Regions from separate parts of the Homo sapiens genome. Here region 2 is linked to region 1. The links come from fine-mapping of genetic effects on gene expression. A gene starts in region 1. The other region holds a variant in brackets. All regions are shown on one strand. Distances are between the middles of the regions.

Evidence for each region. PIP is the estimated chance that this variant, and not a neighbour inherited with it, causes the effect. A credible set is the group of variants that fine-mapping cannot tell apart.
Region 2: its variant is the best candidate, but not a certain one, in a credible set for the expression of JAZF1 in follicular helper T cells (Schmiedel 2018, PIP 0.75).

Annotation. Positions count from the first base shown.
Region 1 is chr7:28,174,487-28,189,818 of GRCh38, forward strand. It overlaps JAZF1 (JAZF zinc finger 1), which reads right to left and starts at 6,309. Exons shown (of 5, transcript NM_175061.4): 1 at 5,977-6,309. The coding sequence starts at 6,091. JAZF1-AS1 (JAZF1 antisense RNA 1) reads left to right here and starts at 5,971. Exons shown (of 4, transcript NR_034097.1): 1 at 5,971-6,053; 2 at 11,184-11,266. RefSeq lists enhancers at 4,528-5,029, 5,030-5,529 and silencers at 5,384-5,503, 12,670-12,870.
Region 2 is chr7:28,145,178-28,160,509 of GRCh38, forward strand. The region is part of intron 1 of JAZF1 (JAZF zinc finger 1); the gene reads right to left. Among named protein-coding and RNA genes, the nearest start is that of JAZF1-AS1, 28 kb to the right of the region's middle. The variant A/T (reference allele first, on the strand shown) is at 5,934.

The DNA of each region.
Region 1 (15,332 bases):
TGTCAACGTAGGAGATATCTCCGAAATATATGAACTCTAAAGGAAACCATTTTCTGAAGAATATGTGGGTTTTTGTCAACCCAGTCAGTTACAGGCAGAGTTCTGGTGTCTGTACATTTCGGTCACATGTCAGAAAATGTGTATACTAAATGAAAACAATTAGAAGCTTGTGAAACTTATGAGACAGGATGTTCAACAGTGATGTTTTATAAAGGATGATCTGACTGTTTACAGGTGAGAAGAGGCTAATGGAAAAACCAGTGAAAACAGAGTTTTGGAGACTGCCGTAAAGTTTCAGATTTCGGGTTCCCTGATCCTGCCTATGGGGTGTGTGGGTGTGTGTGTGTGTGTGTGTGTGTGTGTATGCACATGTATTTAAAACTCCTAGCATTACACCTGGGGGCTTCTCGGGAACCCTGGGAGTAACAGGGAGATCTTGCCGCCAAGCCACAGGGCACAGGCAGAGAGCAGGGCAGGCAGCAACAAGCCTTTCATTCATTCATTTATTAATTCAGTCATTCCTTCTCCCCACAGGAAGTGTCCTCAATGGAATGCACCCACAGGCCCAAGGCACAGTGCCTCTTTCTAGTCCTGGATTTTTTCAAATAAATTCAGGCCACAAGGAAAGGCCATGTTGGAAGCCGCTGGCTTTGACACCACTTTCCCAGTCCACTGTGGCAAATGCCTCTGCCAGGGTGTAAAGTGCCTCTGGCCACACAAAAGAGAACGTGGCCAGAGGCTGCAACACCAGCACTAGACTGTTGAGGAGTCTCCTATTTTCCATTCTCAGTCCTTCCCAGGAAGAGCCTGATGATGTCATAGTTATAAAATGCCCAAAACAGCACCACTAATAGGTGGATACAACCCATGTTAATCTCGAAGGTAGACTCTGACAGTAGGATTACATATTTATTTAGCAGATACACAAATGGCAAGAAACTAGATGATGTAGACAACTTATTATTGTAGATAAACACTTCACATATATTATCTCACTTAATCCTCACTAACCACTCCGTGAGATGGATGCTGCTACTATCCTCATTTTACAGAGGAGGCATAGTACGGTTAATTTGCCCCTGGTCATAAGGGGGACAAGTGGCAGACATGTGTGTTCAACTCCAAGCAGGCTGGATTCGCTATGCCACTGCTCAGATGACCTTCATCTCGAGTTCAGTTACTTTCTAAAGGAGGAAACAGAGTCAATCGTGTGAGGGGAGGTGAGGAGGGGACTGTCACGTTCTTCACCTAATTGGCAACTGGCATAGGCTTAGCTTTGCATACCTGTCTGGAATTCAAATCTCAAATCATACACATCAGCCACGAAAGCTCAGGCAATTATAAACTGTACCTTAGTTTGCTCACCTAAAAGTGGGAGTAATAAGGACCTATGACATATTGCACAGCTTATCTATTTAGTACACTGTGATGCTCCTTTGAGAAGATAATGCAAATATTTACTAAATCATCTTAGGAGCTAAATTCTACAGTTTTGATAGTAAGTGCCCTGATTTTTTTTTACAGAAACTTTGACCTTTATTAATTAGACGGTTTATAAATCTATACTATGAAATGAAGCACTGTAGGTTTATTACCTGGGTTTTGGAGATGAGGAAACTAACAAGTAGAGACTCACAACAAGAAACCTGTTGATATTCGGGGTCAGGAACCAAGTCATAGCTAATGCAAGCCATTCTTGGTCAATGAGACTCTGCCCCTTAACTGGGCCCTTGCAGGGAAATGTTTCAATAGCAAAGCTGAGGATCCTAACATCTGAGGAAAGTTCTAAATGACCTGCTAGTCTGGTACGATCACATGAATAACTGAATTGGGTCAGATTCCTGTGTTTCTATTCAAGTGCTGCAGGCCTGCCTTGGGGCCTGTGTACTGCCTGCGCCCAGAATGTCCTCATGACTAACTCTCACACCTCCTTCGAGGTTTTGTCTCCCATATCAGCCTCTCAGCAAGGCCCACCCTGACCAATCTATTTAAAATTCTCATACTTTCTCCTCCCAACCCTCCGGACCCTGATCTAGTTTTTCTCTTTTCTGTATCACTAACCACCTCCCAACATACTGTGTATCACATACCTCAATTGTTTATTGTCTGGCCCCCTATCCTAGAATATAAACTTCCTAAAGAGTGATATTTTCATTTTGTTAACCAAAAAATATCAAGTGCTCATAACTTTGCCTGGCATAAACTAGGGACTCAATATATATTATTACATAAATAAATTCAAAATGCAGAGGTACTTTTAAAAATGCACCAAATAATCAAATAAGAATGATTCAACAGTTGTGTTTCTCAGACAAAAAGCCATACGATTTCATAGCACTGGGATGCAGGGTTGTAGCGGCATTTCATGAGCCTGGGACATGACCTTCAGTGCTAAATTTAGTGCTCCTGGTGTTTCTAAGATTCCCAGTTACCAGTTTAACTTCATCTATCTAGGATGTTCATACCAAGAATGTTTCTACAAACTCAATTATCTACTCAAAATAAGAAGCAAGCAAACCTGGACCTGCTTTTCCCATCTCCATGTAACAGACTCAGACCTATGAATGAATTGATAACAAAATTGATGGAAAAGCACTTCACAGTTGCAGGGCTACGGGATTTCTCGGCAATTTAAATTTAAGTGGGGATGGGGGAGAGTTTTAGCTAGGATATTCAGTGTATACACTGAGACAGGTACTCCAGTACTGAACCAGCAGTGAAATGCAAGAAAGAAAACAGGAACACCGGTACAGCACTCTTCCAGGAGAGAAAAGAGCTAAAAAAGTGGGTGGTGAAAATCACACTTCCCTTGGTTCTAAAGCCCCCAAATCCTTGTTCATTATGGGGAGAGGAAAACAGTTAAAAACAAAAGTTAAGCATACACATATAAGATAACAGAGAGTTATTCTCAACTTAATGCACTTAATTAATCCAAACTAAACATAATACTTTTATAATGAAAAACACAGGCCTTGAAAAATCTGCCAAGCAAGAAACACACCATATTCCCATAAATATTCATTTTATCGCTGTTTAAGGGTTTTTACTAGTGGCTAAAGGTAATAACCCAGATAGGCCCCCAAAATGGAATGCTCACCTAAGCATATCTCTAATACTCACGGTTGCTAAATAACAAGACTGTTGAACAAATTAAAAGCAAAATAACACACCTCTTATTCTTTTCATGAATCTTTTTAATGTAACCACTCACCAACAGACATGAAATCAGTAAGTCAATCATTAACGGTCTCCAAATACTTATAGATTGAATCAAAAACGATAAATACCACATAACAATACCTGTCTAGAACTTTGACTAAATGCTTTATATTTTCACCCATGTCTTTTCATCAGAAGTGTATTTATATGACACTATCTACTAATTGGGATATTTTTATTCTTCTTAAGATCAGTTCTTCTTTCTGCATATAGGGCTGCCTTTGATAGTAAAGGGCCTCTCCCCAGCAGAAGTGTATAATAGTTTGAGCCTCTTCATCCTGGGAATTGCAAGTGTTTGTTCATTTTAACATTTGCTTTTCATAAAGTTTGCTGGTTCAAACTGTTTTCAACTGTGTTAGCCCTGCAACACAGTTCACCTAGGTCACTGCTATTGCTGTAAACTTAATTTTTCCACATTTTCACTATTAAAAGGACAACACTAGCCTTCTGGGAATGAGGTAGCATTACTTCAAAGCTGAGTTTTAGAAAACGTATCAAACTCTTAACCTTCTTTAAAAATGTGTGCAAAATATTAAGACAATTTCTACACTTAAAAAAAAAACCTCATGATTCACCAAGTTTTAAACCATCTCAAACTAAATCCTCAAGAAGGATAACTGTCTTTAACACATTTTAATAAATATAATTTATACTGTCTTTTAACCAGCTTGTCTAAGTAGGTAGGCAATGGGGTAAAATTATTACTCAGCTTATATAAATTATAGTTTATTCTGAAATAACTGTTAGCGAGAATGGATGGGATATGCAATGACAGCCTTCTGTAAGTCAAGAGAAATTATTTATTTATATTACTTATATCATACATATTAATGTATAGCATTATCTATATTTATTTTTTACTTATTATTGGGAGTAAGGGGAAGAACTTGAACTAGTAACATTTCTACCAGAACTTCACAGTACCGGTGTTTTCGCTTTATTTTAAACTAGCCATCATGAAAAATCTGATTTAATACTTTCAAGCACTTTCAGTTATGACTATTCAATCATGATATGAATCAGCAAATTGGTTGCTCCATTAAACTGCTTTTAAGACTACCAAAACTTGCCCAGCTCTTCTGTCATACCTTTAGCAGAGGAAATGGAAGAAGCTATTACAAGGACGCCTGAAAACTTGAAAAGTTTCAAAACCTGGACAATTACTCAACAGCATTTTCCTCTGAAAGACATTTTGTAGACGTTTCCCATGATTATCTCCTATTCCGGATGGCCCATCAAATCACATTCTAAACAGGCATTCAACACTTATTAAGCAGCCACTGTGTGCAGAGACAGCACTATACTAAGCAAAGGAGCATAGGGTTCTGCCTCATTTTATTCCTGCATAAATACACAGCAGTCGTGATTTATTCTCTCAACTTTGTAGAAACGTGAGCTGCATCCACATGGCTGAATCCATGGCATTCATTTGGACTTCCTGGGGGCAATTTACAGGTTCTCTGGATTAGACAGCCCCATTGGGACATCGCTCGGACCCTTCACCTTCTAGCCCACGCAGGACAACTCGCTGGCGTCGGTCACACCTTCCGCAGGTGGTTGGACCGCCTAAGCCAGATGCACCCGGCCCACCTCCCTTAGCAGGGGTTCCGAATAGAAGTGTGAAAATGTGTGCAATGACTTCTGCAAATCAGAGGACTTGTTGAAAGGTCCAGGGGTCCAGGCGTGAAGGGAAAGCAGCCACCCTGCGGGGCGCCCCCTCCCCGGCGTCTCCCGGGCCCGGGGCGCTGCGCAGGCCGCCGCCGATCCCAGGGCGCAGCCAGCGCACCTCGGGCCTAGCACCATTAGAAAGGCAAATCGCAGAGCCGGGGTGCATTTAAATGCCCGGCCATGGGCCCTGGGGGTGTCTCTCCAGCGGGCGCCGCCGCAGGGGCCTCCAGGGCGCGTCGACCCCGGGGCGCTGGGCGCGGCCCGCGGGCGCACCCAAGACCTCAGCCCGCAGCGCCCGGGCGTCCGCGCCAGGCCGGGGCAGGGGAGGGCACCCAGAGCCCCCGGGCCCGCGTCCCCGGCCCCGCCCGGGCCCCTCGGCCGCCTCCCAGGGAGAGGGCAAGCTCCCCGGCCCCCGCCCGCGGCCGCCGGCCCCGGCCCCCTCCCGACGCACCACACCTAGCAACCGGCGCTGACAGGACGCAGTGGCGGCGGCGGCGGCGGGAGGAGGAAGCGGAATGGCTGCCGCGGTGGAGCCACCCCCGCCCCCCCGCTCCACCTCCCCGCGGCTGCAGCCGCCGCCGAGCCCTGACAGCTCGAGCCGGGGCGGAAGCGCCCGGCGGCGTGCAGCGCCCGCCCCCCGCTGCCCTCAGCGCCTCGGGCTACTCCGACCACCCGGGCCAACTAACTCCGCGACCCTGCCCAGCGCCCAGCTCCCGCCGCCCGCCGCGCCCTCCGCCCCGCGCCCCGCGCGCCGGCACTCGGCCCCGCCGCCGCAACCCCGCCGCCCCGCCGCGGCGCTCCCCGCTCCCACCACTTCGCAGCCCGCGTGCACGCCCCTGAGTCCCCCAGCCGCCCGCCCGCCCGCCCGCGGCACCTCGGGGCGCCCGCCCCCTCCCCCACCCGAGCCCGCTCCCCGCCCCCCGGCACCTCGCGCCCCCGCATCCCGCCACCCCCACCTCGGGGCTCGCACGCGCCCTCCCCGCCCTGCCGCCTCCCTCCCCGCCGGCCACCCCTGGCCATTCCGGGGCTCCCCGCCCGGGCAGGAGTTTCCGCGCGCCTGGCACCCCCGCCCACCCCCGGGCCATTTACCGATGTGGTTGTCCTCGATGTGCTCGATGAGGTCGGCCAGGGTGGGGAAGTGGAGTCCGCAGCCCCCGAATCGGCAGGTATTGGAGAAGAAGGAGGCGGCGGCGATGCCTGTCATGGTGCTACATCGAGAGCCCCCCTGGTGTCGGCTCTGCGAGCGCCGGGCGGGCGAGGGAGGGAGGGAGGCCGGGTGGGGTGAGGAGAGGAGGGGCTGGGGGAGGGGGAGAGAGGCGGGGTGAGGGGAGCGGCGAGGACGGGACGGAGGGAGAGGGGGCGAGAGAGATGGAAGGAGAGCGAGGAGCCACCGGGAGGCAGAGGGGAGGCGGCGGCTGCGGCGGCGGCGTCGGGAGCGGCGGGGGGAGGGCGGGGGCGGGGGCGGGGGGGGAAGGCCGCCGCAGCTGGGAGGAGGGACCAGGGCGCGCGGCTACAGCTGTGCGGCCCCAACCTCAGCGCGCGGACCCAGGCCTCACCTGCGAGCCCTGCCACCAACTTTATCTCGCTAGGCCTGCCCTTTACGGCTTGCCATCCGTGCCATCTGTTTGGAGCCTCCTTGGTTATGTATATGACGTTCTTAATACACCCACATCGATTAATTACACCTACCTCCCTGCGAGGAGAACTCAGGGAGTTACCCTGGTCCCTCTCAGGGACATTTTTTTGTACTCAGCCACCTGTCTAGGTGTGACACATTCACAGGGGACCCAGGAAAGGTAATTGTGTGCACCTTCTTCTTTAAACCTTCTTTAGAAAAAGTACACATTCTCCGGAGGTTTGTACTAACTAATTGATTTTAATGAAGCTTTCCCTCTAGGCCAGAAAAAAATCTTAGCTTTATTTAAATTTCAAAATAGAGTGCTTGGTTGTCAAGTGCATTTGCCTGTGTTTTACATATGTGCCACGTTTTTTATACTCCCTGCTCCTTCTAGGAAAACAAAAACTAAAATAATTTCATCACCCGAAATTACAGCACCCTACTGCACCCACTCCACCATCTCAGGTCTGGTAATTAACCCATCCTCGTTTCAGCCACTGCAGAAAGGACAGTGCATTGGTTAAGGCTAGAAGGAGCGGAAACAACGGCAAGGGACATAGTGACTCTTCATTTAAAAAGGAAGCGATTTCATCCTGTGAGCATTTAAAGCATAATGTTGACCAGGTAACCACTTAAGGTGAATTTAGTAGCTTCCCTGAAAACCAGCATTTTGCTGAGAATCAATTACTTTCTTGTCCCCACCCCCTCCTCCAGTTGCAGTCATATTTCTTCTGTAAAGTGTGTATTTTCCAGTAGCACTTTTCCAGGTGTCTAAGAAATATTACACATTATCAGCAGTTTATGACCCAACAGTACATTTTTTTTATTAATATTAATATATGCATACTGAATTTAGCATTTTTCCTTAGGGCAAATTTCACTTACCCTCTGGTGCAGATGCATGGAGAAATAGTATTCCTCCCTCCATAAACTCTATGCATCTCTGTCTAGTGTTATTTCTAATAATGGGATTGTTTGCTTTTCATGTAAGTGCTTAGAGTAAAGGCACATGTAATATGTCTGTTGCTACAGGAAGTTTTATGATCTGACCATCACCGGTGGCATTTTCTCTTCTCATCTCTTCTGTCTTGCAGCTCACAAGGTGACAAACTTGCTGAGATGAGATTCGGCTTGGGTGGGGCTGGGGCAGCTGTGTCTTGAAGTTCAGTTTGGTGCCAAGAATGGTTTCATGGGCCCAATGAGGGTGGGGGCAGGGCCCTGGTGGGCCTGATAATGAGCCAGGGACCGAGTTGGCAGGGGACTGAGGCCAAGGCCAGACAAGGGTCTAAAGAGCAGGAGTTAGAATTCTAGATCTTGAATTAGAATTTTGGCAGCTGTGCAGTACATTCAGCTGCCCAATCTGGGAAGGCCTTCAGCTGAGAGCAGGCAGAATATCTGGCAGGCACACACCACACCAAATGACATGGAAATGCAATACAAAACTTCAGCCAAAAATGATGCCAAAACAGCCACCCTTAGAGATGAATGTTAGGCACCCCCACTATGCAGCATCTGGGAGCCCCAAAAGCTTTGAAGAAGTAGCAGTTCTGTCCTCCAGAGGAAAAATTGTCTACGTGGAGTTATTAACTCCCAAGAGTGTGGAGAGGTGGTTCAGGCAAGAGAGTTCCGAGATGGGAAGTGCCAGAAATGTGCAGGTGAAAGATGAAGGAAGTAAGGGGCCTGGGTTTCACTAATGCATGGCTTTCTACTACCTCCTGTCAGTTTCACTATTCCTAAAATAAAACCTTGCTAGACCAAATTGAAAAAAATAGATTTTTTAAAAAATGAAGTGAGCTAAAATAACTTCCAAAGTAAATCAAGATATTGGTTTTTAAGACAAAATTATTTTCTCTACCTTGGATAATTATTACTGTTTTGTAAGGAATCAGTTCATTTTGCCTGAAAATAATCCACCCTACTACTTCTTCATATGTGACTGAAGCTTTGTTTATGTGATGTTCTGCTCATACTACTTTTTAAAAATCTGTACACTCTAGGCATTTCCGGTCTTTATATAAGATACATGATTGTGATCTCTTAGACCTGGAAGATACTCTGGCTGTCAGAACCACTGGTTTTGGAGATGTGGTAAACTGAGGCCGGGGCATCAAGCAAGTTCTCCCAGGTGCACACAGACAGTTTTTTTCTCTGTACTCATGGTGCATTTAGAAGGCATTGATAGACAATAGAAGGACAAATTATATATAGATAGTAACCACAGGCAAAGTTTTTTAAAAATTGCTAATAGCATGCTTACCTTTCTGTACTTATATTTTTAAAATGTTTGTTTCCAGGATATCCCTTTAGATAAAGTCAACATCTAAGCTACAAAAATATATAAAACAAACAATTCAACTTATTACATCCGAGAGAGAAGGTGATGACTGATATACCTCTGTACTGGCAAAAAACATCTGTCTGATTTGGAAAGTAAAAATATTTGAAAGGAGAGGGAAAGTGAGGGAACTGAGAAGTCAGAATGATATGACAGTGGCTGTAGACAAGAAGCATTCTCTGGGTTTAAGAGCCTTTTCTTGAAAACCATCTGTCTCTCCCCAGAGCCCAGTGCCTCCCAATGTATAGGCACAAAGTATGGATGTGCAGTGGCCCCATAATATGGTACTTAGCATTACAAATGGTTTGAGATCGCATAACAGTCTCCCCAAATCCAGCATGTCCAGTGCCCTCGAGATGGGGCAGCTGCCGGAAGGTGTGAATCCACTGGTCTAATGGAGCCAACTGAAGACACTGAGGATCCTGCTTCATACAGCTGTCTGTCCTCCACATACAGGAATTGGTTTATTTTGGCATACACTGATAATCAAAACCGTGCACTTCCTGTGTCCTGTGTGGACATCTGTTAATGATGCAAGAGGATCTATATGAACATTAGATTCTATCTTGAATCTAACTCTATACTGCCTTCAACTGTAGCTTTCTCTGGCTTTTTAGATTGTTTTCCAGGTCCCTCTTGAGGTGCTTTTCAGGTTTACTAGATATTTCTTCTATTGTCACCACTGTGTCGAAGGAGCAGATCATGAACCTTGGTCTTCTTCAGCTCATGCAAGTCTGTGGACGCTTACAATGTCTGATGTTCCCTGGCTCTTGAATGCTAAGGCTGCCACTTCCACCAACAGCAACCTTGGGCTCAAAGGGATGCCTTCTTTTTAGGCTCCATCTTCTTCTAAGGAGGATGATTTCTATTCCAGGTTTTATTGTTTAATATTTATGTAACCAAGTTTTCTGTATTTATTTTATTCCAGCTCAGAAATGAATCAGCTTTATCTGCTCTCTGGTGATTAATTCTCATTTTGTCCCTCAGTCTCATTTTGCCTAGGATTAAGAGCTAGCCTTAGAATGAGTAATGGGGGTATTCTTATTAGTTGCCACCAGTGACCTCATGAGTGTTAGCCCCTAGCTCTCCACCTGGCTGCTCCTGCCTACTGACTGTATACGTAGTTTTGGCATTTATTTCCAGTTCCTTGAAGGACTTTTCCAGAACTAAAGTAGTAAAACACCCACCCAATCACTGCAGTTCTAATTGAGCATCCTGGATCCATTCCACTACATTATGTGCCACACTACTACCCAGATGATAACTCCAAACCCAAATCTGATGGGAGCCACTGCTGCTCAGGCCACCCCAACCTGAGTTTTAGAATAATGTTAACAGAAGCAGCTAAGCAATTACTGTTTCATTTTTGCCTTTAACCTATCTTGATTGAACATCTATGCAAAGCTCCTGTTACACAACTCCAGAAGGCTCTATTTATATAGGCAACTGCATGAACAGTGACCCTGGGATCTGTGCAGCCTTGCAGTCCTGTTCCACTGCGCAAGATATGAGGGATACAATTTGAATAAGACAAGCCCAGTCTCTCCTCACGTGAGAGAGCACTAGGTGCTTTGCAAAGTCCTCCTCAATCTATTCTAAGGGCCTGCTAGGGGTGGCTTGGTTGGACTCCGTGTACTACCCTCTTGGCTGCTCTGGTATCTATTATTTCCCTTCTTTCCAGCTTTGGCTCACTCAGATGATAACTTCAGTTGCTGTTGACTGTAATGGAGCCACTAAGGCCACTAATGCTTGTAAAAGACTGCACAGCCTTTTTTGCCCAAAGATGTGTTTTTAGACGTCACTGATTCTCACCCAGCAATGCACAGTCTTGAGGATTTCTATAACTTCAAAGGCTACTAGCACGTTTTTTGTTCTAGCTTTTTGAGGTTTTACCAGCTCACACTATTGCAGTCCGTTTCCTCTGGACTCAGACAAGTATCACTGGAGATTGGACTAGAAGATCAAATTGGGAATACTCCATGATCTCATCTCCCCTGCTAGAATGTCTTAGTGGTAACTTTCACTACCAGAATAGGCTTCCTGCTTTTCAGTGACCAAAATTGATCCCAGCCTTACCTCCTACAGTTTCCCCACATGTACTGACAGTTCAAGATGTACCAAATCATTTTAGTTTTCTTTCTTCTTCTTCTTTTTTTTTTTTTTTTTTTTTTTTTAAGATAAGATCTCACTCTGTTGCCCAGGCTGGAGTACAGTGGCACGATCACGGCTCACTGCAGCCTCGACCTCCTGGAGTCAAGCGATCCTCCCATTTCAGCTTCCTGGGTAGCTGGGATTACAGGTGCACGCCACCATGCCCAGCTAATTTTTTGTATTTTTTTATAGAGATGGAGTTTTGCCATTTGCCCAGGCTGGACTCGCAGTCCTGGACTCAACCACCTTGGCCTCCCAAAGTGCTGGGATTACAGGTATGAGCCACCGCATGCTGTCATTTAGTTTTCAAAATGCGCTCACTTGTTCAACAAAAACCACCTTGCCTTTCTTTGCAAATATTGTGTAGCCTGTCTGGAACATTCTTTTTCCCTCTTCCCTATTCCCTCCCCCAAATACTCTGCAGCAACTCAGCATGTCATCTCCTCCAGGAAGCCTTCCCTATAACTTCCTCCTCTTCCTTCCCTGCTGAGCTGGATGCCTGTCATCTGTGTTCTAGCCAAATTCCCTCTGCATCAGATTCTGACTGCTGGCTTACTGGTCTTCCATCTCCTGTGTACCAGTAGTTCTCAAACCTTTTGCTCAAGAATCCACTTGAACCTTGATCTCATTAATATTTATATTTACTTATAAATTATATACAGGTGCTACTTTTCACATATAGTATGTATATTATAGGCTGGGCACAGTGAGTCACGCCTATAATCCCAGTACTTTGGGAGGCTGAGGTGGGAGGACATTTGAAGCCAGGGGTTTGAGACCAGCCTGGTCAATATAGCAGGACCCTATGTCTGGCAAAAAACTAAAAAATTAGCTGGGTGTGGTGGTACACCCCTGTAATCCTGGCTATTCAGGAGGCTGAGGCAGGGGGGAATAACTTGAACCCAGAAGTTCAAGGATACACTGAGCTATGATCACACCACTACACTCCAGCCTGGGCTACAGAGTGAGATTCTATCTCTAAACCAAAACCAAATGTAGTATGTGTGTTATGAAATAAATCAAATTCTTTTTAAAACGCAGGAATAGAAGGCCTAGTATCTTCATACCATACCGCAGAGTATTGCCTGGCCCACATCCTGGGGTGAATGCATTCCTCCTTGGAGGCCTCTGCACTTGATGGTAGCCTCCTTGAGAAAAGAAACTTTTATTTTTTTTTTTTTAGCCGGAGTCTCGCTCTGTCGCCCAGGCTGGAGTGCAGTGGCACCATCTCGGCTCACTGCAACCTCCGCCTCCTAGGTTCAAGCAATTCTGCCTCAGCCTCCCGAGTAGCTGAGACTACAGGCGCCCACTACCACACCTGGCTAATTTTTTGTATTTTTAGCAGAGACGGGGTTTTGCCATGTTAGCCAGGATGGTCTCAATCTCCTGACTTCATGATCCGTCCACCTTGGCCTCCCAAAGAGAAACTATCTTTAGGCCTGCACTGCTCAATAAAAGTTGCATGGGAGTATAGTTCAGCACTGTGATAAGGCAGTGTGCTAAGACTTCAGTTTTCAATGTTAAAGCAATTTCTAACAATTTGTTACTGTTCCTCTCTAATGTAGCATCGAGGAAAGATAGTCTTCAATCTCTTAGCTTGGATAGATTACAAGTCATTCCTTCCCGTGGTTGTGGACACACTTTTGACGAGACCTCTTTCTAAGGTCTAGCACAGGGACTGTGCTGCGCCAATAACAGGCACTTAGAAAATGCTTGTCTCATTTGTTTTGATGGTGCTAGTTTACTAGTCTCTGCTGACGCAAAGCCATTCAACTGGACAGAGATAAGCAGGGAGCCATTCAGCAATGACATGAGATCTGACACTAGCTCTCCTTTCGTAGACTGACTACGATACCTTTCCCTTTACACAGATGTTCAAATTCATTATGGTGATTATTTTAAATAACTATTACCACATTCATTGAGTGCCTACTATTGGACTTGATGCCTTAACAGAGAGCAGTTCTTAAATCCTATGAGGTAGACAAATGCTGTTATGCCCAAACTATGGATGAGAAAAACAAGACCCTGGGAAATAAGGTAACTTGCTGAGGTCCTTAAAGCTAGTAAGTGCTGGAACTAGGATTGAACTCAGCTCTGTGTGACTCCAGAGTCCTGGCACTTAACATTCTACCCGTACTTGAATTTGTGGATTATAAAACACTTTTGTTCTCTCCCCTTGAATCTGGGGGCGGGCCCATGCTCACATAAATCACAGAAACTAGGCTAGAGGGGCAACAGCATCCTAGTTTGCCAAATGCACTTAGGTGAGGATACTGAGAATCAGGATGGGGAATTGATGATGGAGATGTCATGAGGCCTCCAGCAGGAACTGAAGCTCTTGGCTTGTCTTTTGCCCTCTGCTTCTCTATTGGGAGGTCCTCTCATTACTGTTACCAAGCTTGTTTCTGGTCTTAAATACCTTATTTTAAAACTAAACTTTATAGAGACGTCAGACTTTTAAAAGATACCCTTGGGTTGCTCTTCACCCTGTTCCTGACAACCTCCACTCTGCGCCTTCCTGCTGGTGATTTTGGGGTGGAGTAGGGAAAACAGGCATCACCTCTCATGAGGAAAGGTGACCCTTTTGCTTTTGTCATGCTCTTTATCTTTGTCTCCTGTTTTGTAAGGACTTAACTCATGTTGCCTTTCAGCTAATTGTTTGGCATAATTATATTTTCTGTTGCAATTTTTGTTCCCAGAGTCACAGAACAAACAGTCCCATTAAACGTCATCTCAATGGGCTCTGCAGCTCAATCCTTTCTTTTCCAGATCTGGACCAATGTGGAGGCTACTTTTGCCTTTCAGAAAATGGACCCAGATTCCAGTCATTTCTCTAGGAAATGACTTTTCCCCTGGGTTTTATAACTCAATTTGCCTTTCTGTAATTTTCATCCCATTATGTGTTTGCCAAGATAAATGATTCTTTCTTCTCTGTATTACCTTATATATGTAATGACTTTTCTTATTTATAAGGCCTCAAACTCAGAAGCCTTAGGGTCAGACACAGGATGCAATGAGAGAAGAGGTGTGTGAATGCACCTTTGTATTGTGTGAATGGTGGGGCAATGGTGACCTGGAGAGAACTGTTCTTTTAAAACACTGGAAGGAAAACACATTCCACCTGCAACCCACAGTTGGCCCATGAACCTTCCAGTTTGCACCCCCTGTTTTTCCTTCCATGCCACGGTGCCCAACTTAGATTACTGTTATTGCCACAACAGCCCAAAAATATCCGGATTAATTATTTCTCATCACTATGAGATTAGATGTAATCTAATTCTTGTTGTTAACAATTCAAGAAGGGTCATTTGCACCTTAAACACATCTTGAAGATAATATCTGAGCTGCCCAGGTAAACAGTCATATCAGAGGGAATAAATAGTTGATAAGGACTGCCTTCCTGGTTCTAACACTTCTTGGTTCTCAACATCGTTCTATATTACCCAGTGCAGATCAGAGTCATAAGAAAATTTTCAACAAGCTGACTATGTAAGTACTACAAATTTATTTAAAGCGAGTGCAGTAAAAGATAATGTTGTATAGTGCCTGACCAGTCTTCATCTATAAAATAATTAACAAAACCCTTCAGTTGGTAGGTTTGGATGGCCCAGTCTTTGCGTATTCCCTCTCCTGTGTCTGCAGCTCAAAGTCACATTACTTGCAAGGTATTCTCTTTAAAAATGTGTATAGTAATCAAACATTTTAGATAACGGTCTTCAGGGTTAGAGCCAACTCATGACTCCAATTTCTTTCTCTCTCTTCCGCCATTCCCATCCTCACTCTCCCCGTCCCAATCCAATATCCCTCCCCTGCTGCCTTTCCCTGCCATCCCCAACCCCCTGAAAATATGGTGCCTTTTCAAGATTGATTCTTGAATGGGGCCTAGGCATGGAGAGTGTTCGGTATTGTGTTTGAGAAAGTTGCACCAGAGACAATAATTCAGGAAAGAAACAAGAAAAAGGAAATTAGGAAAGAAAACTAAAAAGGGGCAGAAGCAAAGGCTGAGAGGATCTTTTCTGTCTTCTCTCTCCTGTGCACCAAAGTCCTGCAGCAGAGGAATCCTCTCTTCAGATAATCCCTACTCAGTCTCTTATTCTTATGAACCACAATCAAATTTGCATCTTATCTTCCTTATTCTATACCCTGATCCAAAAGACTGATCAGAGGAAAGGTCTTCACAAAAGTCCAGCATCGAAAAGACCTAGATCCTAATGCCAACTCTATTTTTTGACTTACAGATCATTAACCTTGGGGAAGTCACTCAGTCTCTCTGAGACTTCTTACCTACACACTGGATTTAACAGTACAGATCCTACCCAGCTTCTGGGGATGAAATGA
Region 2 (15,332 bases), 29 kb before region 1:
CCCTTCTAAACCGGATCCACATTTCCAGCAAGTAGAAGGACAAAGGAAAAGGTAACTAAAATGTCCAGGGCAGTAAAAAGTCTGTGAGTCAAGGTTCACATGTATACTCTTTGCTTTTCCGGGTACTGAGGGTATGAAACTAAGAGGTCATGCCTCCCAAAATACTGGAGGTAAATATGAAAACACGCCTAAGCACATACTGAAATGGAGACCAGGAAAATCCAAAGATAAGAATAAATTATATGCTGACTCTGCAGCTTAATCATCAACCACTTAATCTTACCCCTAAGTAACATCACATGAAGCATTTTTAAATATTTAGCACCATAGTTTCTTGTAGGCATCCAACAAATAATAACAAGAGGGAGAAGGGTTTGGTAACAATTCATCCTCAAAGAGCACAGAAAGTGACTGGAAGCTTTCTCATATCACTTAACAGCTACTGAGAAACAATTTATATAAAATCAGAGTCATCCATTTTTATGTGTGTAGTTTGATGGGTTCTGGCAAATGCATATAGTTGGGTAACCACCACCACAATAAAAAAAAAAACAGAACATTTGCAGCACCCCAATAACGTTCCCTTGTGCTTCTTCGTACAATCTCCTTCCCCCATTCCAGGACGCTGGCAACCACTTTGCTGTTTTCTGTCCCTATAGTCTTGCCTTTTCTAGAATTTCATAAAGTAAAATCAAACTGTACGTAGCCTTTGTGTGTGACTTCTTTCACTCAGTATGATGGGTTTGAGAGTCATGCATGTTGCTATGTGGATGAGGAGTTTGTTCCTTTTTATTGCTGAGTAGTATTCCATTTCTCCATGTCAATTTTCTACTCTTCCTAGAAGCCTTAAGATAAGCCCCATGCTACTATTCTAAATACTGTTTATTGACTTTCCTTGATTTTGTCTTTGGCAGAAATGTCAACACAGCTGTGGCCACTTGGCCAGGAACAAAAATAGCACCTGTCAGGAGGGTCAAGCTAGGCAAGCCAACAAGAATTTAAACAAAGAGTTGGAAATGCCTAGCCATACTAAGGAGCAGAAGCCAGCAGATGACAGGCCACCATCTTGAAGAAACCTCTTGACTGTAAAAGATTAGAACAACATTAAATTAAGGAAAACCGTTTCCCCATTGATCGATTGATCAGTAAGTATTTCCATTTAGGGAACAGTGATATACCAGATGATCTGTAACTTGTCCCACTGTGAGGGTGACATGAGCTATCCCATGGCACTTGAAGATTCAGGGTGTTCTGGTGTAACACAGGAGTGAATCTTCAGATAACTGAAATTTATCTTATTAAGTACTGTAAGTACTAATTAAGTATTAAAAGGTGCTAATTCTATGCCTTCTTAAACAGAGTCTACTGAATATAATCAAGTGTTTACTTGATGAGGCAGAGTGATCATTATCAACAGTCTGACTGCATGATAAGCCCTTAAATAGAGTTGTCCTCAGGGATGGCAGACAATTGTCTCCCTATTCCAAATGGTCCCAGAGTATTGCCATTTAAAAATAGAAGTTCTGATCTTCTTCCTATAATGTTAACTATCACTAGTCATACTGTTGCTGTTCTTGCTTTTAATCTACTATAGGTTGAGTTTCCTTTGTCTAAAATGCTTGAAACCTGAGCACTTTGGAATTCTGGTTTTTTGCTTTTTTTGTTTCGTTTTGGTGGTTTTTTTTTGTTTTTTTTTTTTGAGAGAGTCTCGTTCTGTCACCCAGGCTAGAGTGCAATGGCGTGATCTCAGCTCACTGCAACCTCTGCCTCCTGGGTTCAAACAATTCTTCTGCCTCAGCCTACTAGGTAGCTGGGATTACAGGCGCCCGCCACTACACTTGGCTAATTTGTTGCATTTTTAGTAGAGACGGGGTTTCACCATGTTTGTCAGGCTGGTTCAAACTCCTGACCTCACACCTCGGCCTCCCAAAGTGCTGGGATTATAGGCATGAGCCAGTGCACCTGGCCCAGAATTCTGATTTTTTTTGGCGTTTGGGATATTTGCATTATACTTACTGGTTGAGCATCCCTAATCTGAAAACCCAAAATCCAAAATGTCCCAATGAGCATTTCCTTTGAGCATCCCATCAGCAACCCAAAAATACCCAATTTTAGAGTATTTTGGATTTCAGATTTTCCAATCTGGGATGCTCAACCTGCACTATTTTCTCTTTTTATATAAAAAAATTATAAAATATGTCCTTCATACAGAAAAGCCCAAAGAATAAGTATCCAAGTACTCACCTTCTGATTCAGCAACTGTACACACTTAACATATTTCTTTCAGATCACTTTTCCTCTACTAGTAAAAACAATTTTTTTTTTTACATTATGAAAGTTTAGCTACCTTCCAAGACATCTGGAAAATAGAGAAAAGAAATCACTCTTGGCTGGGTATAGTGGGCCATGCCTGTAATCCCAGCACTTTGGGAGGCCAAGGCGAGTGGATAGCTTAAGCCCAGGAGCTCAAGACCAGCCTGGGCAACACGGCAAAACCCCATCTCTACCAAAAAAAAAAAAGTATATATACATATATATATACACACAAAAAAAAATTAGCCAGGTGTGTTGACACATACCTGTAGTGTCAGCTACCTGGGAGTGGGCTGGGGGGAGGGGGGACAGGGAGGCTGAGGTGGAAGGATCACCTGAACATGGGGAGATTGAGGCTGCAGTGAGCACTGATTGCACCACTACACCCCAGCCTGAGTGACAAAGTGAGACCCTGTCTCAAAAAAAAGGAAAAGAAAAGAAAAAGAAATCACTCTTAACATAGCACAACCACTCTTTACATTTTGGTAAATTTCTTTCTTTCCTTTATCCCCATGCAACTGGGTTTCCCAGATCTTTGTGCATTATATATATAATGTGGTATGTCACTTTATCACATGTTTCTTACTTTTTTTTTTTTCAGACAGAGTCTCACCCTGTTGCCCAGGCTGGAGTGCAGTGGCACGATCTCAGCTCACTGCAACCTCTGCCTCCTGAGTTCAAACAATTCTCCAGCCTCAGCTTCCCGAGTAGCTGGGATTACAGGCACGCACCACTACACCCAGTTAATTTTTGTATTTTTAGTAGAGACGGAGTTTCACCATGTTGGCCAGGCTGGTCTCCATCTCCTGACCTCAGGTGATCCATCCACCTCGGCCTCCCAAAGTGCTGGGATTATAGGCGTGAGCCACCGCGCCTGGCCCACGTGTTTCTTTAGATTGCTACACACCATAATTTTTTAGAGGCCGCATAGCAGAGCAAGTGAATGTACCCATTATTGAACCAATCCTCTCTCATCATTACTCACTTAGGATATTTCCAATTATTTGCTATTGTAAATAGACTCCAGGGAATATCTTTAAGCATACGGTTTAGTCTTTGGACTTTTAATCTACTGAGAAGGCGTATCTGAGTATTTCTTGACTTGACTTGTTATCATCAGAGTGAGGCCTAAGAAACTGTTGCATTCATTCATTCATTTATCCATCCATCTATTCATTTATTTGAAACACATTTACCAAGTTCCTTCTTAAGGTTAGAGATCTTTTTTAATGAAATAAATTAAAATGCATGGTTGCTGCACTCAATAAGCTCATGAACTAGCTGTGAAGACAAACTCACTGCACTTGAAACAATCAGACAGCAACAAAGGAACGAGGCAGGATTCACTGATTCACTGCTGAGTGAATGACACATGCAACTCAGGGTCTGGAGGAGGAAAACCTCCTTGCGGTTTACGCAGTCAGAAATGGGCAGCTGAGGAGTCCTTAAGGATAGGCGAGGTTTCTACTTACGTTGGCTTTACTTATCTATTTTACTGCTCTCATATTAACGAAGAGATGGTACTCAAATCTTTCCCCCAATCCAAAGTCAAGTAGAGCAAAAATAACTCTTTGTCTCCTGGCATTACGTGCTGTCCCCATCATTTTTGGTGAAGGAATCAGGATGGTGGGCCACCTTTCCTGTGCTACCAGGGAGCATTCACACATAGGCTGGGCTGCAGAGCCTGTAAACAGCCTCCTCTCCTCAAGCAGCCCAATTTCTCATATCTTAGCAATTGAACCAGACAACTATATCCCCTTTCTTGCTCTGTCAACAAATGCATGAAAAGCCTCTTTTTTTCTTAATGCCTATCAGACTGGAAAAAGTGCCAAAGAAGTATGTCGCCAGTGTCAAGAAAGACGTCCATGGAGAAAGAAAGGGCAACAGTTCACCTATTTTTTTCCCTCTGAAGATCAAAATGTAAACAGGCAGGCAAAGGCAGGCAAGCAGAAAGGCCTGGGTCAAACTCAAAGTTCCCCACCCCACCCCCAGTCTCTCTGCTCTATGAGACCCTGTCTTTTTGGGCTATCGCAAGTCCTCCTTGGCATGCCTCCCTCACCGGTGAACTTCTCAGTGTCAGAAATAGGGAGGTGCATCCAGTTGGTAAAAGCACAGAAATAAAGAGGCAATGGGAAAGCCTGAACCCACAGGTTCAACTAGATTCCCACACAAGCACACATTGATCTTCAATTTGAATCAGTGGGGGGAAAGGTCACTTATCTTTAAATGTGAGAGCTGTCTAAAACGAATGTATCTGCTGAAACATGGGATATAGCAATGGGCTAAATAATTACTGATTAATTCACTTAGCAGTCACCTCATTTTCTTCCCATTGTCTTCCCTACGTTTTCTTCCCCTGAGGAAATAAACACCCTGATGAAATAAAACAAAGTCTCACAATGCTGATTGGAAAGTCCCTTCTGGCAGGAGCCTCAGCAGTGACCACTAGAGCAAACACAGCGCCCACGTAATCTGCAAGAAGGTTTTACCTTCCTCTATTCCCTTGCCAGGAGCACCCTGACAAACATTACCTGGCTTCTTTGAAGATAGGTTTTCTGAAGAGGATTCCATTTCCTTCAGGAACTTTCTAGGGGAGGCAGTCAGAGGACTGAGTAACTGAAATGAGTGTTACTATAAGGAGGACAGGATCATCTTGCCCGGTGGGGAGGCAGGTCCAGAAAGCTTCGGGGGGCAGGGTACTGCTTCAGGGAATTTTGACAGAATCTGTCATCTTGTCAAAGGTGGGCATTCAAGGAAGTAGAAACAGGGTGAGCAAAGATGTGCTGGGAGGACTCAGGGAATTGCCAATAATTTGGCACAGATGGCCTGCAAAAGAATTGCTTCCAGACTTTTGGATTTCACAAAGCAGGCCATGAAAGAAAAGTAATGCCCATGGAAGAGTCCAGAAAACAAAGATATTGACTATCATTATCTTCATTTTGTAAAAGAAACAACAGTTTAGTGCACACATTCATCAAAAGGCATCACCTTCGAATAAAGGCCACAAATGCCGCCGTATCTAACTTGAAGAAACAGTCATGACAGCGTGTCTATGTTTTTTTCTCATTGCATGAGGACCGGTGGGAACACTGTCATGGGGCCAGCCCTGGTCTGCACATTTGGGCATGATGACTACAGGGCACAGGAAGGGGCTTTCCTCTCCTAAGAGGCCACACAACTTGCCCAAGCCTCACACGGGGGAGACATTAGGAAGCACTCAGGTGGGGTCTGAAGGGAAGCCTGTGTGTCCACCTGCTTCTCATGCTACAGGCCACTTCGCCTCCAGGCCCATGCTGATGGCCTGACAACTGAAGGAGACTGGCTCTTGAGGTCCAAAACTCCACCAGTCATTTAAGTGTCTGCAGGCAGCATGTGAAGTATAGTCATCAAGTATTTTAGATAAAAATGTGCTCATTCGATAGGTAACGCCATTAAAAATTTCATGCATGAAGAATTTGTAACTAGAAGTGAAAAAGTTTTAAGTTATAAGGCAAATGGAAAAGCACAATACAAATTATACATAATAATTAATAATGTAAATAAAGACTGAAAGGAAAGGCATCCAAATGTTAACAGCAGTAGCTCTTGGGAGGGGGGATTTTCGATATATATATATATAT[A/T]TTTTTTTTTTGAGACGGAGTTTCACTCTGTTGCCCAGGCTGGAGTGCAGTGGTGCGATCTCAGCTCACTGCAACCTCCACCTCCCGGGTTCAAGTGATTCTCCTGCCCCAGCCTCCCAAGTAGCTGGGATTACAGGCACATGCCACCACACTCGGCTAATTTTTTGTATTTTTAGTACAGACAAGGTTTCACCATGTTGCCCAGGCTGGTCTTAAACTCCTGACCACAAGTGATCTGCCCGCCTTGGCCTCCCAAAGTGCTGGGATTACAGGCATAAGCCACCATACCTGGCTTGGAGGGGGAATTTTAAAAATGCTTTTCTATGTCTTATAAATGTACTATAATTTATTTTCATGTTTTCCTTTATTTTCTATATTTTCTACAATACTTTCAAAAACAAAGGATGAGGCCAGGCACGGTGGCTCATGTCTGTAATCCCAGCACTTTGGGAGGCCAAGGCAGATGGATCACTTGAGGTCAGGAGTTTGAGACCAGCCTGACCAACATGGTGAAACCCTGTCTCTACTAAAAAAATACAAAGTTAGCCGGGCATGATGGCGCATGCCTGTAATCCCAGCTACTTGGGAGGCTGAGGCTTGAACCCGGGAGGCGGAGGTTGCAGTGAGCCGAGATCATGCCATTGCACTCCAGCCTGGACAAAAAGAGTGAAATTCCATCTCAAAAAAAAAACACAGAGGATAAAATCTTTTAATTTTTAAAAGTTTGAGTCAAAACTAATGTTTTTAAAAAACCTGCATTATCCAATTGTCATAAATTGCCACAATTCACTCTACTAGTGAAAAAACAAAAAAGAATTGTGGCTCATGTTGACATATACTTAATAATTATTTTTCTTTCTACTTTAGTATATCTATCTCATTAGCATTTTATTTTTAGATTTCCCAAATCAAACCAGCAGCTTCATGTCTTTACGTAGTTTCGTCCTCACATGATGATGTGAGAGTTTCGATTTGACTTAATTATGTCACTATGCAGAGGAAATTTAGCTAGGTCTGTTGATGAATCAGAAGTTCTCTTATATAAAACAACAACAACTACTACTACAGGTCAGCTAATGATATAGATGGTTTTTAAAGGAAATGAATCAGCTTTCATGGTTTCATGACAGGGTTGCTAAAACTTTGCTCTATACGATTTTCCCATATTTGGCTACATCTCTTCAACAACTTCACAAGTATTCATCTGAATACCTAAAAGTCCTGTATTTGGAATAAATCAAAAGGCTTGACTTACTACTCATGAAACCCTGAATCTAATTCCCTGGCCAGGGTATAAGTAAGCTGGCCCTCTGACCCACTCCATCTCCCAGTTACCCCACTGTGCTACTGAGCACACCTTTTCCTCTCCCAAACTCTACTGCATTTCTTCTAATACTCAATGCTTCATCTATGCCAGGCATTGGATTAGTTTTTTCTATCTCCCATTGACTCAGAAAAGGGAAAAGAAAAATCAAAGGCCATATAAGTAATAACAAATGAATCCTGACTTACTATTCCTTTGTAAAAGAAAAAGATAAAAATTAAAAATTCGACTCAGGAAATACAAGAATAGTAAGTAAATACAGCGAGTTAATGAAGAATTACAGATAAGAAAGTAGTGATTGAAGAATGAGTTATGCAGAGGCGAAATTCAGCTAGGTCTATTGACACAGGACAGGAAAAGGAAGAAGGTAGGAGGTTTGAAAAGGGGACACTGCAAAAAATGGCAGTGGAAAAAGTACAAGAAAGATACAGAGATAACCCAATACAGATACACAGAAATACATTTGAATTTTACAACTTTTTCATAACTATTATGATTACATGTTTTTGAAAACAGTGTAAATTGGTGTTGCATTTTCACAAAGCCGTATTATATAGTTTCTTAGTTTCTAGGGAGAATTTTTAAAATTTATAAATCATGTAAAAGGTTTGTTGAGCAGTCTAGGTAATTTCCAACTTCCAGAGACCAATGTCCAGTTCATTATAATTTCTCCCTCGAATCAGCACCTCCACTATGGCCCTATGAGCAGTGTGGGGCCACTAGTACTCTCCAAGGGTACACTACTTGGTTTGCTCATCTTGGAGCATACAGTTCTTAACACTGTCAGCCAGGAAGTGGGCTCTCAGAAAATGTTTGCTGAAATAAAACTAATGAAATGTAAGCATCAGGCTCTTTGCGAATGATAAAAAGCATCACACTTCCACTAAAAAAAAAAATTAGCAACAATGTATTTTATAAATTTATTTTCCTAAAGTCTATATTTAGAATATGATTATTCAAAAAAGTGAGTAACTTCTATTGGGGAAATTTTCATTAATAACCAGATTGCAGGTTTTTCCCAACTATAATAAAAAGGCAAAGACCAAAACAAAACCAAACAAAAAAAGGATTGTTCAGTTCTAGATGACGATACCAGGAAATTCTACCTGAGGCAAACCTATCCCATAGCCATCTCCATTCTAACTGTCTCACTCTCTGCAGCCATACTGAACAAACCTATTCCCTCTTTCTTGACAGCCCTCCTCATATCTGGAACTATGTTCTCTTCACCAAGCTAAGCATTACCAGTCCCTCTTCTCTTCCTCATTCATGGCTTCCAGAGCCTTCATTTCTTGATAGCCTTTCTACAGAGACTTATTTCATTGAATATGACAATCAGAATTGATGTGGTCTGGCAATGACCACGGTGGGGTTACCACTCACCATACCCAGAAATCCATACCTCTATTAGGGGTGCTTTGGGATGTCTGCAGCTCAGAACTGTTTGCAAAACATGTATCCTCTCCTGCCCTCCACCTACCTGCCCCTCTACCCCCTCCCCCTGGAACAATTATCATGAGACTCTAAGAGAAGTCCCTATCAAAACTTCACTATGAAAAATCCAGGGAGAACACTGGGAAATGCCAAGAATTCTCAGTCCCTGGGTACTTTCATAATGGGATGAAGAGGTACACATGAAGATGGCCCCTAACAAAGCCTCCCCGAAGTTTTGGGGACTGCTGTCCTCCTTGACTGACCCCCTCCCATCCCAACCCATGAGGGTAACTGGCTTATATGACTATTTAAGAAAGAATCTGCAAAGCGCAGATGAGCTTTTGCTACAATCCCACAAGTTGATCCCATAATCTAAGCTGTCCAGCAACAGAATAGACCTGAAATAAGCTGATGTGAAATAAGCCCTTAGTGATCACAATGTTCAAGCATGGCAGAGGGCCACTGTCAGGGTCCCTACAGAAGTCTCCAATGGGTAGAGCAGATGGGTTTGAGACCACTAATGACTCTTCTAGTACTTAAGATATGATCATTATACAGCCTCTTCAAGATCCTCTGGTCAAACTTAACCTCATATCCAATAGTCTGATGTTCTGGAGTGAGTGCAGGACTCAAACATTTATTCAACAATCAACCAACTAACTAACCAAACCACATTTACTGAATGTCTCTTGAATGCCAACCATTGTGCCATACAGGTGAAAAAGGAATTCCACTCACATTCTCTGGCCAATGGGATCCTTTATTTTTCTGCTTGATCTTATTAATCTATCACTGAGCAACCTTAGGCTGCTGCTGACAATTAATACTAAATAATTATTTATGATTCCCTATTCCTACCTTTTATTAATTATGGTACTTAATTTCTCAGTTTCAAAATTTCTGTAACATCATTGATTATAAATATATTCTATTTCCTACTAAGATGATGCCTACAATATTGAAAAAAAAAGGGGGCTCTCAATGATAGAAGGAAAAAATGGCCTTTTCTCCTAAAAACAATTATATTCAAAATAGACAAAACATACTAGGGAGAGAAAAAGGCAAAACATTAAAAAAAAAGAAAAGTAAAAGCTTAGAAGTAGATACAGTAAGATATTTGCAATTGCTATCTGCCCTTGCTCACTAAAACTAAAAATAAAATTGGCTTGCGGTTTACTAAATTTGGTTGCAAGTACTTTTCCCCACCAAACCACTCTGCAATCACATCAGTCACTAATGAAAATGATTGGGAGGGGGGATGGAAAGGAGGCTGCAGTAAAAACACACTGTATATTTTCTGGAACATATGATGAAACAGAAGGTTTCACTTCTTGTTTCAACCATTTTAGCACCTTCTCCTTTTACTCAATTTCAGGGCATGAAAGAGACTGGGCAGTTGTGCAGAATATGAGGAGAACTCATTTTGAGAGAAGATTAAAACCTGGCCCACTAATAAACTATCTTCAGTTACTGTACACATCAGTCAAACCAAATAATTCACTCTCAGTTTAACTCATTCTACAGGGCTCTGGAATAATACATCACTCTTCTGATAGAGGCACAAGTCCATTAATTACCAAACTGTGCTGCCACAGAGTTATACGGTCTTCATTCTTCCCCTATAAAGTGTGTTTTAGTTTTCGAGGCAAGAGGAGAAATTCAGAGGGGAAATGAGTAATTTAGGAACCTTTTACAGCTCTCTGGCCTGCACTAAGTAATCCTTTCTTCCCTTTCAGAGTTAATCATCAAAGGTACTGAACACAGTATGGAGGGCCTGGCCACCCATGCCCATTCAGCAACTACAACCTCCACCTAAATTCAGAATTATCATACAAGAAATGACCCATGCAGAAGAGACCAAGAGAAACAACCACATCTAGGCTGTGACAGCACAGAATGTATGTGTGTGTCTGTGTGTGTGTGCACGCGCACATGGGAAGTATAGGAACCAAATACCTGGGTCCAAATTCTAACCCTGCTTCTTCCTGGGAAGATGATCTTGTGCAAATTAACCTCACAATGCCTCTGCTTTTTGATCTGGAAAATTATCTTAAGGGTATAAGGGTACCTACCTGATAAGGTGTCTATGAGGTTACATAAGCTAATGTAGGTAATGTCCAAATCACAGTAGCTGGTATGTACATATACATACACCCTTGATAGATACCTTATTCATTCAATCCAAATTGCCACTCACTCCAGCACACTGGTATCTCTGGCTGCCAAGAGTTATGCAACAACATACTTAAACACCAAATCATCTAAATCATTTGGGTGGAACCATCGATCCTTAACCAGGCTTGTGAAAGGTTCTCTTGGCTCTGTTTACTTTGGACAGGCATCAAGCGTCTGTTTTCCTCAGAATCTGAAAGTCACTGGGTCAAGGCTGTAGAGGCCCCTTTTCACACAGAGGAACCAGTCAAGGACTGAGATTGCTCTGTGTGGTGGTGGTGGTCACCTGGCCAATTGCATGGGGAGTCACTTCGTGGCTTTGGCAGAGTCTGCCACTGTCTGCTAGAATAAATGTGGAGCCAAAATATGATTTGTCTATTTTGACTTGTGTACATTTTCTGAGTACAAGAGACTATTGATAAGAAGTTTAGGTAAGTGGAGAAAATGTTTGTTGATTCCCCAGAAAGCACAAAATGTTCATTCAGTGAAGAGAGAAGACCATTCGCTCATTATAGTTATGAATTAACGCTACATCTTCTACAGCAGAGGTTCCCAAGAGTGTATTGAAATTACCTGGGAATTTGTTGAAACACAAATTGCTGGGTCTCAGCCCCATAGTTTCTGATTTCGTAGGTGTGGGGCAAGAGGACACAGTGTTGAGAATCTGCACATCTAATACAATAATCCAGAAAATACTGCTGCTGCTTGTCCAGAGACCACTCTTGGAGACCACTGCTCTATAAGCAAGAGTACGTCACCAAGAAATTTAAATTCAGATCCTAGAACTAGAACACTACCAAGCAAGGGGGGAAATCATTCTTATGAGACAGTCATTGAATGAATGCATGAATCAAAGGGCAGATAAATACCTTCTCTTCCATCATATGCTACATTTCCCATATTTGTTTATACCGGACTCCATACTACGTATAAATAAAGACAGTCTTCAATATCCATTAAGATGACCTTCGATATCCTTCAACCAACCACAGTGGATTCTGAAAGCATACATACATGTGCATGCACACAGCCCCTGTGGTGGTCTGCTCAATGTAACTCAATCTCCTCTCTCCTTCCTTTTAATAGCAGAACCTCCAGAGTGTCTGCTGGGCAAATGGCTGCCCAGCTGCAGACTGATCTCCTCAGCACCCCCACAGCTAGGTGTGCCCACTAAGTCCCTCTTCCCACAGGCTGATAAGCAGACAAAGTGAGAGGAGGCTGGCCTCAAGCACTGAGTCAGGACCACAGCCTAGAGTAGAAGGTGGCAAAGTTCCTTTGTAAAGAGCCAGACAGTGAATATTTTTGGCTTTGTGGGCCCTATCAGCTCTATCACAATTATTCAACTCTGCCATTGCAGCACAAAAGCAGTCACAGACGGTATAAAAATAAGGAGTATGACTGTGTTCCAATAAAACTTTATTTATGGACGTGAAATCTGAGTTGCAAATAATTTTCACATTTTTTCCAACCATTTAAAAATGTAAAAGCTATTCTTAGTATGCGGGCTGTACAAAAACAGGAGACAGGCCAAATCTGTCCCAAGGGCAGCAATTTGCCAACCCCTGCCCGATGGGAAGATGACACAAGACAGAAGGAACCCATCCTTAGACAGCTTCGTGGAGGAGACATACTATCCACCCTGAACCACAGTCTACTTCCATTCGTGACAGAGACAGCTTTTATCTTCTTTTAAACAATTGATTTCAGGGTCCCTGTTAATGAAGCTTAGCATGTAATGCTAACTCATGCACCTACATACACAAAATCACATTTTGGTGTGACACGGTTTGAGTTTAGTACTGTTCAAAATGAACAAAAAATTAAGGAATGGAAGAGTCCCCTTTATTTTTTTTTAATCCCCGATGTAAGCTTAAATTCCCCATGGTCTCCTCCTAAGTTTCTCAAGTAGCAGAACTGATAGGAATAAACACTCATGTTGGTTCCTGCAGCAGGGATTGCCCAATGTCTATTCTCTCTTTATCTCTGCATAACAGAACCCTGCACAATGTGCCCTGCAGGGGGAATTATACTTCTCGACCTCTCAAAACTTGGTTGAGGGCAGGCACTCTGGGCCTAGGGAGAAAGGAGACCACATTGAAAACACGCGCGCACACACACACACACACAAACACACACACACACACACAGAGAGAGAGAGAGAGAGGGAGAGAGAGAGAGAGAGAGATACTTCCTAATGCTGCCTGGGCCTCACCCAAAACCCATGGTCCATAGGGGACTGACAGGAGATAAAAAGGCAAGGAGGGGTAGCCAACGTAATGGAGGCAGTAGTTATTGGTGGGGCTTTCCAGTAAGCCCTTTTGGCCTTCCTGCCCTTCCTTCTGGAAGCCTAGAAATCAGGAGTGCTAACGAAAGGGGAAGAGAACGGCAGAGACTCCAGCTGGCACAAACATCCTGGACCACTGAAGACAGCAACAGGTGAATTCCAGAATTCTTGACTTAAGCTGCTGTGTCAGGTGTCTGTTACTAGTAGCCAATGCAATTCCAATTCCCATAAGCCCCAAATTAGATCCTATTTCCACAACCGAATAAAGGTAGCACCCACATCAACGCAATGCACAGCTCTGAGATGGAGAGAATTCTCAGATATAAAGGAGCAACAATACATGGGGCTAAGATGCGGGTCTCATAGGGTGACTCTGGGAAAGCCAGTTTTTTTGCCTAAGTCCTCTCACCATCAGTTTACCCAAATAACTTCTGACTGGTCCTCTGTAGAAGCAGTCCTATCTTTGATTGCCATTGAGAATTCAATCTGATATGGACATAGACTGGGCTTAATGATGTCGAGCATTTGAATGAATGTCAAGAAAATGAGCTGCTCATTTTGGCTCTCCACTCATGGCTTTAGGCCTTGGACCAGCCTTCCCTGACTGAAAGCCAGTCAGTAGGTCAGAACATCCTATGTGCCAGCCACTGTCCTGGGCCCTGGGAACTGCAGTGCACTTGGCTTTGAGTCCCTGCCCTTAAGGAGCTCACAAGCTGATGAGGGGAGAGAGACGCTGAACAAACAAATACATAAAGACAATTTCGATAGAGGAAAGTTTTATGAAAAGACATAACGGGGTAATGCAATAGCAAAATAGGCAGGAAGGTGGGCTCCTAACTCAGCTGACATGGAGAGAGAAAGCCTCCGAATAGATGAGACTTAGATGCTGAGGGGATATTCATAGGAAAACCCAGGGAAGTAACTGGGAGTGGGGTTGATGGGAACTCCCTGTACTACTTTTGCAACTTTTCAGTAAGTCTAAAATTATTCTAAAAATTAAATTCATTTTTAATATAACAAATTTTTTAAAATCTAAAGAGAAACCCAAGCAGAAGAAACAAGAGCAAAGATCTTGAGACATGAACAACACTGGCCAACTCAGGAGAGGAGGACCGTGAGTGGGTGCAGCACAGGAGCAGAGAGGAAGGCGGGAGGTGGGACCTTCGAGGGGGCGTGGGCAGGAGGTGTTGAGACCGTAAGCCCTGGGAAGGTGTCTGGGTTTTCTTTTGTTGGAATGGAGAGCCTTGTCAGCACAGTGGCTTGACATGATTGACATTTTGAAGGATCACTCTTGCCGCTGTGGAGGACGAGCTCTAGGGTGGTGGAGAAAGTAGAGGCAGGGAGGCCCAGGAGGAGGCTGCAGCACTGGGAGATGGGGCTTCAGTCGCAGTCTTCAGCCTCCTTACCAACTGCAGGAAGAATCAGTTTTACCTAGTAAAGTTCATTCTTCCTGGTGTACACATAGCCTATTATACTGTAGACTGCATAAAAACGGGGAGTCTAGATTCTCATACTTCACTCCTGGTGCCTGAACAATTTTTTAAAATATTCACCCAAGCCCTGATACCCCTTATAAGCGAAACCATAATTACGAAATAAAGTGCTTTGAATTAAAAAGTTGTTTTAGGTTAGATTGTGATAGTTTAAAAATGGCTACTTCATGAGTTTGATTTGCTTATAATAGCAAAAAAGCAGAACTTAACAGAATGATGGGGTGATACTGCCCTCCAGGTGGTGAAAATCGGTTCTGGGTGGGGTACGGAATCTCACTCTAAGTGTAAAGCACAGATTACATATAGGACATCAACAGATGCACAGTTTATCTGTGGTATTAAAATCTCATGAGGAGGGATGGGAATAGGAAAAAAATGTCAAAAAAGGCTCCAGGATATGGGGGTACATAGTGAAAAAAGAGTTGAGAAACGTGAATTTGCATAAACACCCCAAATATAGCATAACCCAGGCAGAACTCCGCTGTCACTCTCTCCCCTCACCCTGTTCTACCTTTCTTTCCAGCCCTTACCACTACCTAATATGACATACTTTTGTTTCTTTGTTGTCTACCTGTGTCCCCCATCTAGAATGTAGGCTCCATGAGGGCAAGGGCTTTGCTTGTGGCTGCACCCCCAGCACTTACAGAAGGGCCTGGCACACGGTAGGCGAGGCTTGTTTTGTGAAGGGAGGC